Regions from separate parts of the Homo sapiens genome. Here region 2 is linked to region 1. Evidence: fine-mapped expression QTL. A gene starts in region 1. The other region holds a variant in brackets. All regions are shown on one strand. Distances are between the middles of the regions.

What was found. PIP is the estimated chance that this variant, and not a neighbour inherited with it, causes the effect.
Region 2: its variant is fine-mapped to the expression of SDCBP2-AS1 in whole blood (TOPMed, PIP above 0.99).

The regions. Positions count from the first base shown.
Region 1 is chr20:1,322,989-1,328,368 of GRCh38, forward strand. SDCBP2-AS1 (SDCBP2 antisense RNA 1) reads left to right here and starts at 2,355. Exons shown (of 3, transcript NR_040049.1): 1 at 2,355-2,541. The region is part of intron 1 of SDCBP2 (syndecan binding protein 2); the gene reads right to left. All of the region lies in intron 2 of FKBP1A-SDCBP2 (FKBP1A-SDCBP2 readthrough (NMD candidate)), which reads right to left. It overlaps LOC124904856 (a long non-coding RNA gene), which reads left to right. Exons shown (of 2, transcript XR_007067487.1): 2 at 878-1,381. RefSeq lists enhancers at 2,417-2,646, 2,637-2,931.
Region 2 is chr20:1,359,393-1,364,772 of GRCh38, forward strand. The region is part of intron 2 of FKBP1A-SDCBP2 (FKBP1A-SDCBP2 readthrough (NMD candidate)); the gene reads right to left. All of the region lies in intron 1 of SDCBP2-AS1 (SDCBP2 antisense RNA 1), which reads left to right. Among named protein-coding and RNA genes, the nearest start is that of MIR6869, 31 kb to the right of the region's middle. The variant C/G (reference allele first, on the strand shown) is at 2,497.

The DNA.
Region 1 (5,380 bases):
TGCATGGCAACACTCACCCGGCTGAGTCACAGCCTACCTCGCAAATGGGGCTGTACGTGCTTTCCTGTTTCCGCAAGTACCCATCAGCCCTTCACTGATTTACGTTGCCTGCTTGGTTCCTGGAGGCAGCCAGTTCCAGACCCTGCCCTAGCCTGGCCTTTGGGGTAGAAATGACCATCCCAACAGGACAGGAATTTCCTGGGAGGGGAGGGAGTCTGGCTCTGACTTCCTTTAGACCACCTGGGGGAAGAGACCCCTTTGCTTATAGCCTTCCCCACTGTGTACACACACTATGAGATTTTTAATCTTGGGACAGTCCTGAGCAGCTATCATCTGCCAAAACATGACCTGCCACCAGGACCACGCATGAACAGCAGATGCGAAAATAAGCAGCCACTCCTGCCCTGATTTTCCTAACATTTAACCAGTAGAGCACTTATATTTTTGTCAGCTGTCCCCTGGGAGAGCAGGGAGTCAGAGATCCATTTCCTGGAAATCACTCCCGGGCCAGATCACATAACCCTTTTTCTGTGTCTGAGATCCTTTCACCACTGCCACCTTCTCTGGATCCCATCTTAGTGCTGGGATGCGGGGAAGTGAGAAAACAGGTACAGTCGTTCCTTGGGGTAGGTTCCAGGACAATGCCCCTCACTCCCCATCCCTCGGATACCAACATCCACAGCTGCTTATGTCCCTTACATAAAGTGGCATAATATTTGCATATAACTTATGCACATTCTTCTGTATACTTTAAATCATCTCTAGATTACTTACAATACCTAATGCAATGTAAATGCTAAACAAAGTTATATTTTATTTTTATTTGAATTTTTGTTGTTTTTTTTAATTTTTATTTTTAAATATTTTCTGTCTACAGTTGGTTGGATCCATGGATGTGAAACCTGGGGATAGGAAAGGCATACTGTATCCCCTGCCTTGTAGCAGCTCACAATATAATGGGGAATGGTTCCCTGCCAGCGAACATGCTGTGTTTCGTTCAATCATTCAAAACATTTGAGTGTCCACTGTGTGCCAGACGTGCTGGTCCCTCTGCTGTGCACATCATCCTCCTTGGTGTGATGCTCCTTCGAGGCTCAGTTCAGATGCTACTTCTCTGCTTGGCTTTTCCAGACTGCATGATACCCAGGCTGCCTGGCTGGGTCTTCCCATGTATTCCACCCCTGACCTGTACTGCCCCTGTTGCCAAGCTATTTATCAAATTATGTGATTAATATCTGGGTATTTTCTTACACTGGACCTCACTCATAAGGGCAGGAGCTCTGTCCCGTTCACACACGATCCTTCCCCGCCACGGCACTGCCCAGCACACATATGCTAGCAAAAATTATTTGACTGAATAAATCAGTGGTTTTCCAAGGAACAGATTGGAAATTTATGTGGGCATTTTTGGGTGTCACGAGACTGAGGGGACAGTCATATCCCTGTCGGGGGTGGGGGGGGCAGGGATATGAAACTCCTGTAATGGATGGGACAGTCCATTACAGTCACCATAACAAATGGTCCTGTCCCGCACAACTTTCAGATATCCTGCCAAACTTTCAAGTAAGCCAAAAATCCGTTATAATTGGTTGTACATACAATCACAATGAATTTTTCCCTAGTTTTAGTACACACTAGACTGTCTGGAAATGCATATATCAGGTTGGTTGTGGGGAGTTACACTTTGCTCACCATTCTGGAAAATCGCTGCCCACCCTGCTCCCCACGGGTGAGTCACCCGAACAGCATGCTCACGTCTGTGTACATGTGTAGCTGTCACAGTGACTCCGCGCTTTTATATAAATATATTTAGCCTTTGACTCAAGATGTCAGATATAAACTGTTGGCAAAATTCAGCTGAATATTGTCTTCTAGTAAACCTAAGCTGATTCCTAAGTTGGGTACAAGCGTGATCGGGTGTAAGCCAGCCTCAGCTTTTACAAAGTGAAATGCATATTCTTTTATTAGAAATTACTTTCATGTCCCTGCCTTCTCCTTATAAACAAAGGGCATCATATTGATTTTTTACCCGGGGAACCATCACCTGGGCTGCAGCCTCAGGACGAACCTGTGCCTTCCCTCTGTCTCAATTTCCTGCTTTGGGAAATAGGAGCCACAAGCCACAAACTCCATCCACCGCGCCACAGGAGCGAGGTCCAACGCAACGGTCCCTAGGGCCTGCCTCCAACCCAGCCTCAGTTTCCTATCTGTCACATCGTTCTATGATCTCGAAATGACTATAACCCCTTTCTTAGCCCCAAACCAGCCGGAAGCGACATCTTCCGGTTGCTACAGGTTACGGCGGTTGCTATGGGCTACGGCGCCTGCGCAGAAACACCGCCAAGCGACTCAGCAACTTCTAGAGCGCATGCGTTTCGCCCACCCAGGCCCGGGCGCGGTTAGGGGTGACTCCCACGATCCCTAGCGGCTGCAGAGTGGAACATGGCGGCCTCCTTGCCGCTTGCGTTACCAGAGTCCACCCGGCCTCGTGCTTTCTCCGGGCGCCCGTAGCTGGCGCCGGCATCCACAAAAATAGATCAGGTAAAGCAGCAGAGTAAGGCATAGGAAGACTTGGTCGGGCTCCGCGGCCCCTCTTTACCGGATTGGAGGCTGCGCGGGTGAAATCGAGCTTTAAACTCCCCTGGCCTCGGAACACCATTTGTAGCCTCTGAAGGAGGAGGACTTATAAGATTCTGTACTAAGGCAGCCGTGGGAAGGGAGGAGAACCAGGTCGGCCCGCGCGCTCCCGGCTGCTTTTGCTCTCCCTTTGGTTTCGAAAGCGTCAAGTCCCAAGGTATTTCCTACCAATTGTGACGTCACCCTTCCTCCCCCGTTTCTCACCCGTTTCTTGTCTGGCCGTGACTTCTGACCCAGTGTTGAGCTAAAAATGCCCCGCCCCACCCTACGCAGATTCACCCCGCGTCCCACCCACCAGTGACTGAGTGACTGGGCTTCTGCTGCCTAGGGAAGGGTTCTTGGCTTGGCCGGGCAAATCAATTCCCACAGCAAAATCAGACCGAAAGCCTGTTATGAGGGACTCAGGCAGTTGGATGTGGCGTATAGGAGGAAGGCTAGGGCAATCAGGAAGGTCTCCTGGAGGAAGGAAGAAGACCCTGACTGGGCCGTGTAGGATGGATGTTCAAGTGGGAAGAGAGTGTGCTATTCCAGGGACAGGGAGGCCCAGGCCTGAGAGTCCAGTTGCCTTCTGGATCCCGTTTACCTCGCAGATTATCCAAACTGGACTCGTGATTTTCCCCAGCTGTGCCGCGCCTCCCCAGCGGTCTCACTGAATCCACCCATGGGCTATGTCAGAAATCTGGGAGTTATCCTCAGCTCCTCCCTTTCCCTTCTGAAGCCATACCTACTTCTTGCCCTCAAATCTCTGTGACCTGACTTCTGGTAATGTTTCCATTCTCACCATCTCATTCTTCTCCACACTTATCATGAAGTTCATTTATTCCAGACTACTTTAGGTTGAGTCCTAAAAGTCAGCCTGCTAGTTCATGCCTCCATGCTTTTGCAGGTGCTATTCCCTCTGTCTTAAGAGTCATTCATGCCTTCTCTCTTTTCCTTGTTGTGAACTCTTTTTCCTCCAATTTAAAGCTTTCCCCCACCTGTACGCATGGAGATTGGCAAGCCTCCCTTCTCTAGACGACAGCATTTCTTGTATTTGCCTCTTCATCATATATTCCACAAGTGTTTGTTAATCACCTACTATGAGCAAGGCCTTCTGCATTTCCTAGGTTGGATTTCCACTGTGCTGTGTTTGTTTGCTCATCTCCCTCACTGGTCAGGAAATGTCACTCATTTGTTAACCCCCAGTGCTGAGCACAGTGCCTGGCACACAACAGGCATCCCATTACTATTTCTGAAAGGAGTGGAAAAGCAGGCACAGAGAGAAGAGAAAGCCTGATATCCTAAATATACAGTCTTTCTTCCCATGCCTGTCTGTGTTTGCAGTCAATAAGTAGAAAGTCTTTCGAAGAATAACCTGGGCCTGGAAAAGGAGAGAAACCATGGCCCTAACGAGTTAGGTTGAAAGGCTGCCTGGCTCCTATAATCTGACAGTGGAAGTTTGCTCAGTTCTGTGCTGATGGCTTCCCACAAGTAATTGGTTCCTCCGAAAGGAAAAGAACCCACCTAACCCCTCTCTCTCAGAGGAATTTTCCTCTCCCACAGCCCTTTCCAGATTTCCATCCCTGAGCTTCTGTACTTTTTGATATAAGCAATAACAACACCCACAACAAACCAATAGCTGGGCTTCGGAGATCAGCAGGGCTGACAAGGGGACTTCAGCCCCCATCTTTGAACTTAGAGTGAGAACACTCTTTGGAACACTTTGTTCCAAAGAGCTGAAGTGATGGAACTCCCACTCGTTCCTGTGGACAGCTCATCCGTCCTTTACAAGACAGTGCGCGGGAGGGAAGCGTGGGTTAGAGTGTCAGAGGAATAGCTCCTGGAAGGCCAAATTAGCCCAGGGATGTGGTGAGTCGGAATAGAAGAAGCTGTTGCTAGGCCACCAGCATGTACCCCCACTCCTCCTCTCAGTGCTGCACTGCCTGCTGGGGAAAAGCTGTGACTTCCTCAAGCAGACACGCCTGAACCCAGGCCCAGGCAGGGCAGGGTTCAGACTGACTGCTTCTGACTTGTGAGAGCACAGCATAGGCAAATCCCCTTTGAATGTCATTTCTTCCTTTGTAATCTGGATAACAATAGTTGCATCACAGTTGTCTGGAGACTGAAAGATTTTTAAAAAGAGTTAAGGTGTATATGGAAAGCATTTAGCACAGCACCTAGCACATAATAGGCATTCAGTAAAAGTTAGCTGTTTATTCATTGTTTCAGCGCTTACTTACTCAGCACCTGCTAAGTCTGAGTACTGTTCTAGGTATCAGCAGTGAAGGAAAGAAGACTTGGTCCCCAAATGTACTTTCTTTGGGGGAAGAGCTGGATAAATAGGCTTTGTGACTCTGTGTGCTGTGTTAGATGGTGGGAGGCACTGGAGAGAAAGAGCAGGACGGAGGGTCATGTCAGGAGGTTCAGAAGCCTTGCTGGCTGGGTGGGGTGACATTTGAGGAAAGGCCTAATGGGGTGGGCACGGCCATTGCAGAGCCTCTCAGGTGGGAGTTGGTGTTGTGTTTAGAGGACATCTGCCAGTGAGAAGCCAGTTGTGCAGAGAGGGAGTAAGGAGGAGTAGTGGGGAGGAAGCTGGAGAAGTGAGAGGGGCCAGATCCTGGAGGGCCTGGAGGTCATGGTGAGGACTTTGGCATTTACTGTAGTGAGATGGGAGCCACTGGGGGATTTGTAGCAGCAGAGTGCCAAGGTCCAAGGGTTATTTTGACAGGCCTCCTCTGGCTGATGTTTGGAGGATGGGCTACAG
Region 2 (5,380 bases), 36 kb after region 1:
AAAATACAAAAATTAGCTGGGCATGGTGGCACATGCCTGTAATCCCAGCTACTCAGGAGGCTGAGGCAGGAGAATCGCTTGAACCAGGGAGTCGGAGGTTGCAATGAGCCGAGATCGCGCCACAGCGCTCCAGCCTGGTGACAGAGTGAGCTTCCGTCTCAAAAAAAAAAAAAAGTCTGGTTCCTTTTACTTATTATAATATCTGTGAGATTCATCCATATTGTTGGCATTTCAGTAGTTCATTCCTTTTTATGTTTGTTTTTGCTTTCATTTGAATTGTCACTATCCTATGCTCTTGCCTGACAGACCCTGAGAGCCTACTGACCACAGCAGCTCCTGTTACCACGGCTGCCGTTTCTGCTCTCAATGCTACTGCTCATTGATCCCAGGGAGGAAAATTCTGGTGCATCACTTAGTATTTATTTCAGGTATGGTTAGGACATTTCAGAATAAAGGATGGCTTCTTCTGGATGTATCTGAATTGATCTGCTGTCATATACTTATGAATCACATGCTCAGACCAAAGTACATAAAAAAGTCATTCTCTTTCCAGACAATTTTAGGGGTTTGTAACCTTGGTCTTATATTGCTCCATGGCCTATGAATTAGTAACAGGACTAGTGAAATTCCTAGTAACATAGTCCTGTTACTACAAGATTACCCATATCCTTTGATGATCCATCTACTGCAAACTCATAGAATTTACTGGACAGTCTTCTTCATTTTATGTAAGAATGACCACTGTATCATCATATGTCAATGTCCTGCATAACTGTCACCACCCCTCCATGCCGAATACCTGGTAGCTTGTGATGAGTTGAGAACCTCACTAAACAGTCTTATCCACATCCTCAGGTTCTCTGAGGTTTTCCTTCTGTCCAGTCCATGCACTTGTACCCCTGGTGGTCGAAGTACAGTCACGCACTGCGTATGATGTTCTCATCAGTGGTGGGCTGCATACACAGCAGTGGTCCCATAAAACCATAATGAAGCTCAAAAATTCCTATTGCCAACTGGCATAACGTCATGTAGTGACACATGACCTTTTCTATGTTTAGATCTGTTCAGATACACAAATCCTTACCACTGTATTCCAATTGCCTGTAGTATTCAACAGTCACTGTACAAACCTGCTGTATAGTTTTGTAGCCTAGGAGCTACAGGTTGTACCGTATAGCCTAGGTGTGTGGTAGGTAGGCTATACTATACAGATTTGTGTAAGTATACTCTATGATGTTCACACAATGGTGAAATCTCCTAATGACACATTTCTCAGAATGTCTCCCCATCACTTTGGCCAGCTGACTCAGTTTGTGATGGCAATTGTGAGACCAGTTGAAGGGCGATCTGACCTGTATATTCTCTTGGTTAATTGTATTTACAAATTGGATACATGATTTCTCTGATTGCTCTCTTCACAAACTACATTTGAATATACAAATGAAGTGCTAAGTGGTTTTTATACAGGGAAACAAAGCCAGTTTTGTTTTCTACCAATGCAAGTTTGGATAAATTCTTTTCAAGAAGATGACTAAATATTTCCCATTTAGCAAAGTCCTCAGATAAAGAGATGCCAGGTATTTCTCGTTATGTTGGTTTCTGTATTACTATCTGTTCAGACACAAGCGTCCTTAAAAATGTGCTTAGTTGTAATTTCTTCATAGATTTCAACCAAAACAACATATTGCAAGATTGAATGCAGAAGTAGATGTGAGAACTCATTCTATTAAGCCAAGCGTAAATGTTTAAAAATGTAAAATAATACCACTCTTCTGATATGTTTTGGGAGAAAATATGTTTGTGGAAAATATACCTATCAAAGAAATATCAGAAACCTTCCAAACTGAAGGACATGTGTATCCAGATTAAAATGACCTTCCAAATGCTTAACATAGTAAACAAAAAACAGGAGGAAAAGGAGGGGAGAAAAGAAAAAAAGAAGACTCACACAAGGCCGTGTTACGACATTTCATCATACCATAGATAAATCAGATCCTGAAAGATTTCAGAAAGGAATATGAGATCACACATAAAGGAACAGGAATCAAAATGACATTACCCTTCTCAACAACACTGGAAGCTCCAAGAGAGTGCAGCAATGCTTTCATCCTCAGAGAAAATAATTATCAATACAAAATAATATTCCCAGCTAAGCTATCAATCATGAGGGTAGAAGAAAGGCATTTTTAGCCATTGCGTGGGAGTGCTATAATAATGGTCCCAGTGAACCACACCTCCCTGTATCCGCACCACTTTGCAATGAGAAATTTGCTGTTTCTCCTAGTGAGAGAGGGAGTCTATTTCTTTACCCTTGGGCCTGGGCTGGCCTGGTGACTTGTTTTGACCAATACATGGAAGAAGTGACATTATGTGAGTTCTGCAGCTGAAGCTTTAAGAGGCCTTGAAGTTTCTCCTCACCTTCTTGGAACCTTGAGACCACCATGCTGTGAGAAGCCTGGGCATATCTACTGGAGGCCGAGGGGCCACATGACACGT[C/G]TAAAACTCATACGTCAAGATATGGTAATATAATGTGAAATTCCTAGAGCAGCTTAATGCTAGTCTCTATTTGGCTACCTTTTTCTTTAGAATTGCTTATATAGTTAGTGTATGAGATTTTTTGTTATATTTTGCAAATATTTTCTCTCCATTATAGCTCATCATCTTTTAGCTTTGTTTATGGCATGTTTTTATGATAGAGAAGTTTCATTTTTTATTTTTAAGTGGTTACATCTATTAATAATTTCCTTTGTGTCTCTGAGGTTTTGTTGCTTAAGAAGGACTTCTCAAAGATTTAACCTTATTTTTTACTTAAAGAGCAAAAAAAAAAACAAAAAACAAAAAACAAAACACGATCACAATATAAGCCAGTATAAGCAACTGGTTCGTGCAGGATGGTGGTAGTTATCAAAGAGAGCGGGGGGTCTAAAGCTCTAAGGAGTCGTCTGGAGAAAGCCAGGCAGAGACTTGCTGCTTTTCTATTCTACTTCTTTCCCTTCTCATCCAGCTTGAAAGCTGCACCCATCAAGTGCGTCCTGAATCTGACGATTCACTATCTTCACTTCCGCCAGTCTGCTCCAGGCCTCCATCCTTTCTGGCCTAAATGAACCCCAAAGCTGGCTTGTGTCCTGCATCCATCCACCACTCTTGCCCTTGTTTCACTTATCTATTGCTGTGAAATAAACTTCAAAACCAAGTGATTCAGTCTCACAACTCTGGTTTTCCTGGGCTGAGTGGGGTGGTTCCTCTATTCATGTGATGTGGCTGGAGCTGTGGGCATTTGTGGGCTTGAATGGGCTGAGTGTTCACCGTGGTTCATTCACATGGTGGCAGCTGGCTAGGTTCTCAGCTAGGACGATGGCCTCTCCATGTAGCTTGGGCTCAGAGCTAGTGTTCTGAGAAGGAAGTAGAAGCTGGCAGTCCTATTGAGGCCTGGGCTTGAAGTCCCAGAACATCCTTTCCCACTGCCTTGTAATGATCAAAGTAGTCACAAGGCCAGCCTAGATTCAAGGGCTTGGAGGAATACTACCTTTCAGTCAATTTCCCAGTTTCCAGAGGATTTTAAAAAAACAAACGGCTCGACACAGTGGCATGTGCTACTCGGGAGGCTAAGGTGGGAGGATCGCTTGAGCCTGGGAGGTTGAGGTTGCCGTGAGCTGTGATTACACCACTGCACTCCAACCTGGGTGACAGATCAGACCTTGTCTCAAAACACTCTCCCCAAAACAAATAGACATAATTCTCCTGCTGGAATCCACTGCTCACTAGACTTACATTGTAATAGCCTGCCTCACCTGGCCCCTGCCTAACTCTGTCCCTCACACCTTTGCTCTGTCTCTAAAGGTCATACTGCTGTTTCCCCAGCACCCCAAACTCACCACCCTTCAGGGACTTAGCCTAGAACAATTTTCCTCCAGGACTTCACTTGGCCACTTCACTCCATTGCTTCCAGACGGCTGGCATTATTTGCCCATCTGTTTTGGGTCTCCTTCACTGGCATGAATGTAAGGTCCTTGCCAGCAGCACTTTTCTGTCCTATCCTACATTCACTCTTAGCATCTAGAATGGTGTTATCACAGGAAAGGCATAAAAGTATACTCTGTGGTTAACTGAATTTACTTGCCTAAATCTTGGGCATGTGATGCTTTGAGAAATATACAAATTAATGTTAAACAGAACCACAGTGGTCAGTAACAGGCACATCCAAGGATACACTAGTCCTGCATACATACCCACTGGCATGTTTCTACCTTCCTAATAAGAGCTGACAGCCGTTTTGCTGCATGCTGTACAGGACAGCTGCTGCTGCAAACTCAGCCTCTGATGGGCCCATAGTCGATGTGCCCACTGCATGCCTTGAACTCAGGGAATTCAGACGAAATCATCACACACTCCAGCCAGAAGCTAGAGGGCTGCCGGCCTTGACATTTTAATGCATTTTTGGTGTCAGCTGCCCTTCACTGATTCACTCAATTCTAGAGGTCTGAATGAGAATCCCTACACGCTTCTCAGGGGTTCTGAAGAAGCCAGTGTAGCCCAAGGTCATCAACCCAAGTGAACCCACATTTATCCAGGAAGCAAGAGGTGTGGCAAGGGCAGAATTCTAACAGACATCCATTCCACATGTGTCAGAGACAAAACTAAGTCCAAGATAAAATCGACAAAGGCTATTTATTCATAAACGTGCAGCAGGGGAACCCTTCTGCTGAAACCTTTGTTTTGGTAAGTGTTCAGAGGTGTTAAGACGTTATAGAGTAAAAAGGAGAAATACTGACAGTGTTGACTTGGCAAATGTCATATAAGGGTAGGATTTGTGGAAGCAAGCCAAGAGACAAAGTGGTCTTCAAGTACATTTGACTTGATTAGCTTCAAGGAGGCAGGTGAGCAGTCTGGGACCATTTCAAAAGAGGAAAGGGGCGGAGAGTTTTCTGTGGCCAGCCATTTCCTGGAAAAAGTGATGGTTGATGGGATGCTTTTTTGCAGTCTATCATCATGGTTCTTAGGGGTGTAAAAAGTAAAGTGAGGTTCCTCTTCAAAGACTTTCCTCCCTGTCTAATTAAGAATAAATAGTAACTTCTCTTAGGAGCAAAACTTATTCAAAGACCTGTGCTAACATTCTTAAATATCTGCTAGCCGTAATAAAGAAATCAATGTACTTTATGTTCTTAGCTCCCACAATTTAGCCTATTTGCCCTGGCAATGCTTATACTGGTCCAAGCAAGCATTAGGTCATAGCCTGTTCCTCTTCCTTATCTGAAGGTGTTTTTACGTTTCTCAGCATTCCACAAGTTACTTCCTCCTTCATTCTCCTCTGCCTTTGCCTCTTTTAAAAAGTTCTAAGTTGCTAGCCAATCAGGACAAATACAGAATGTGAGGTCCCGTT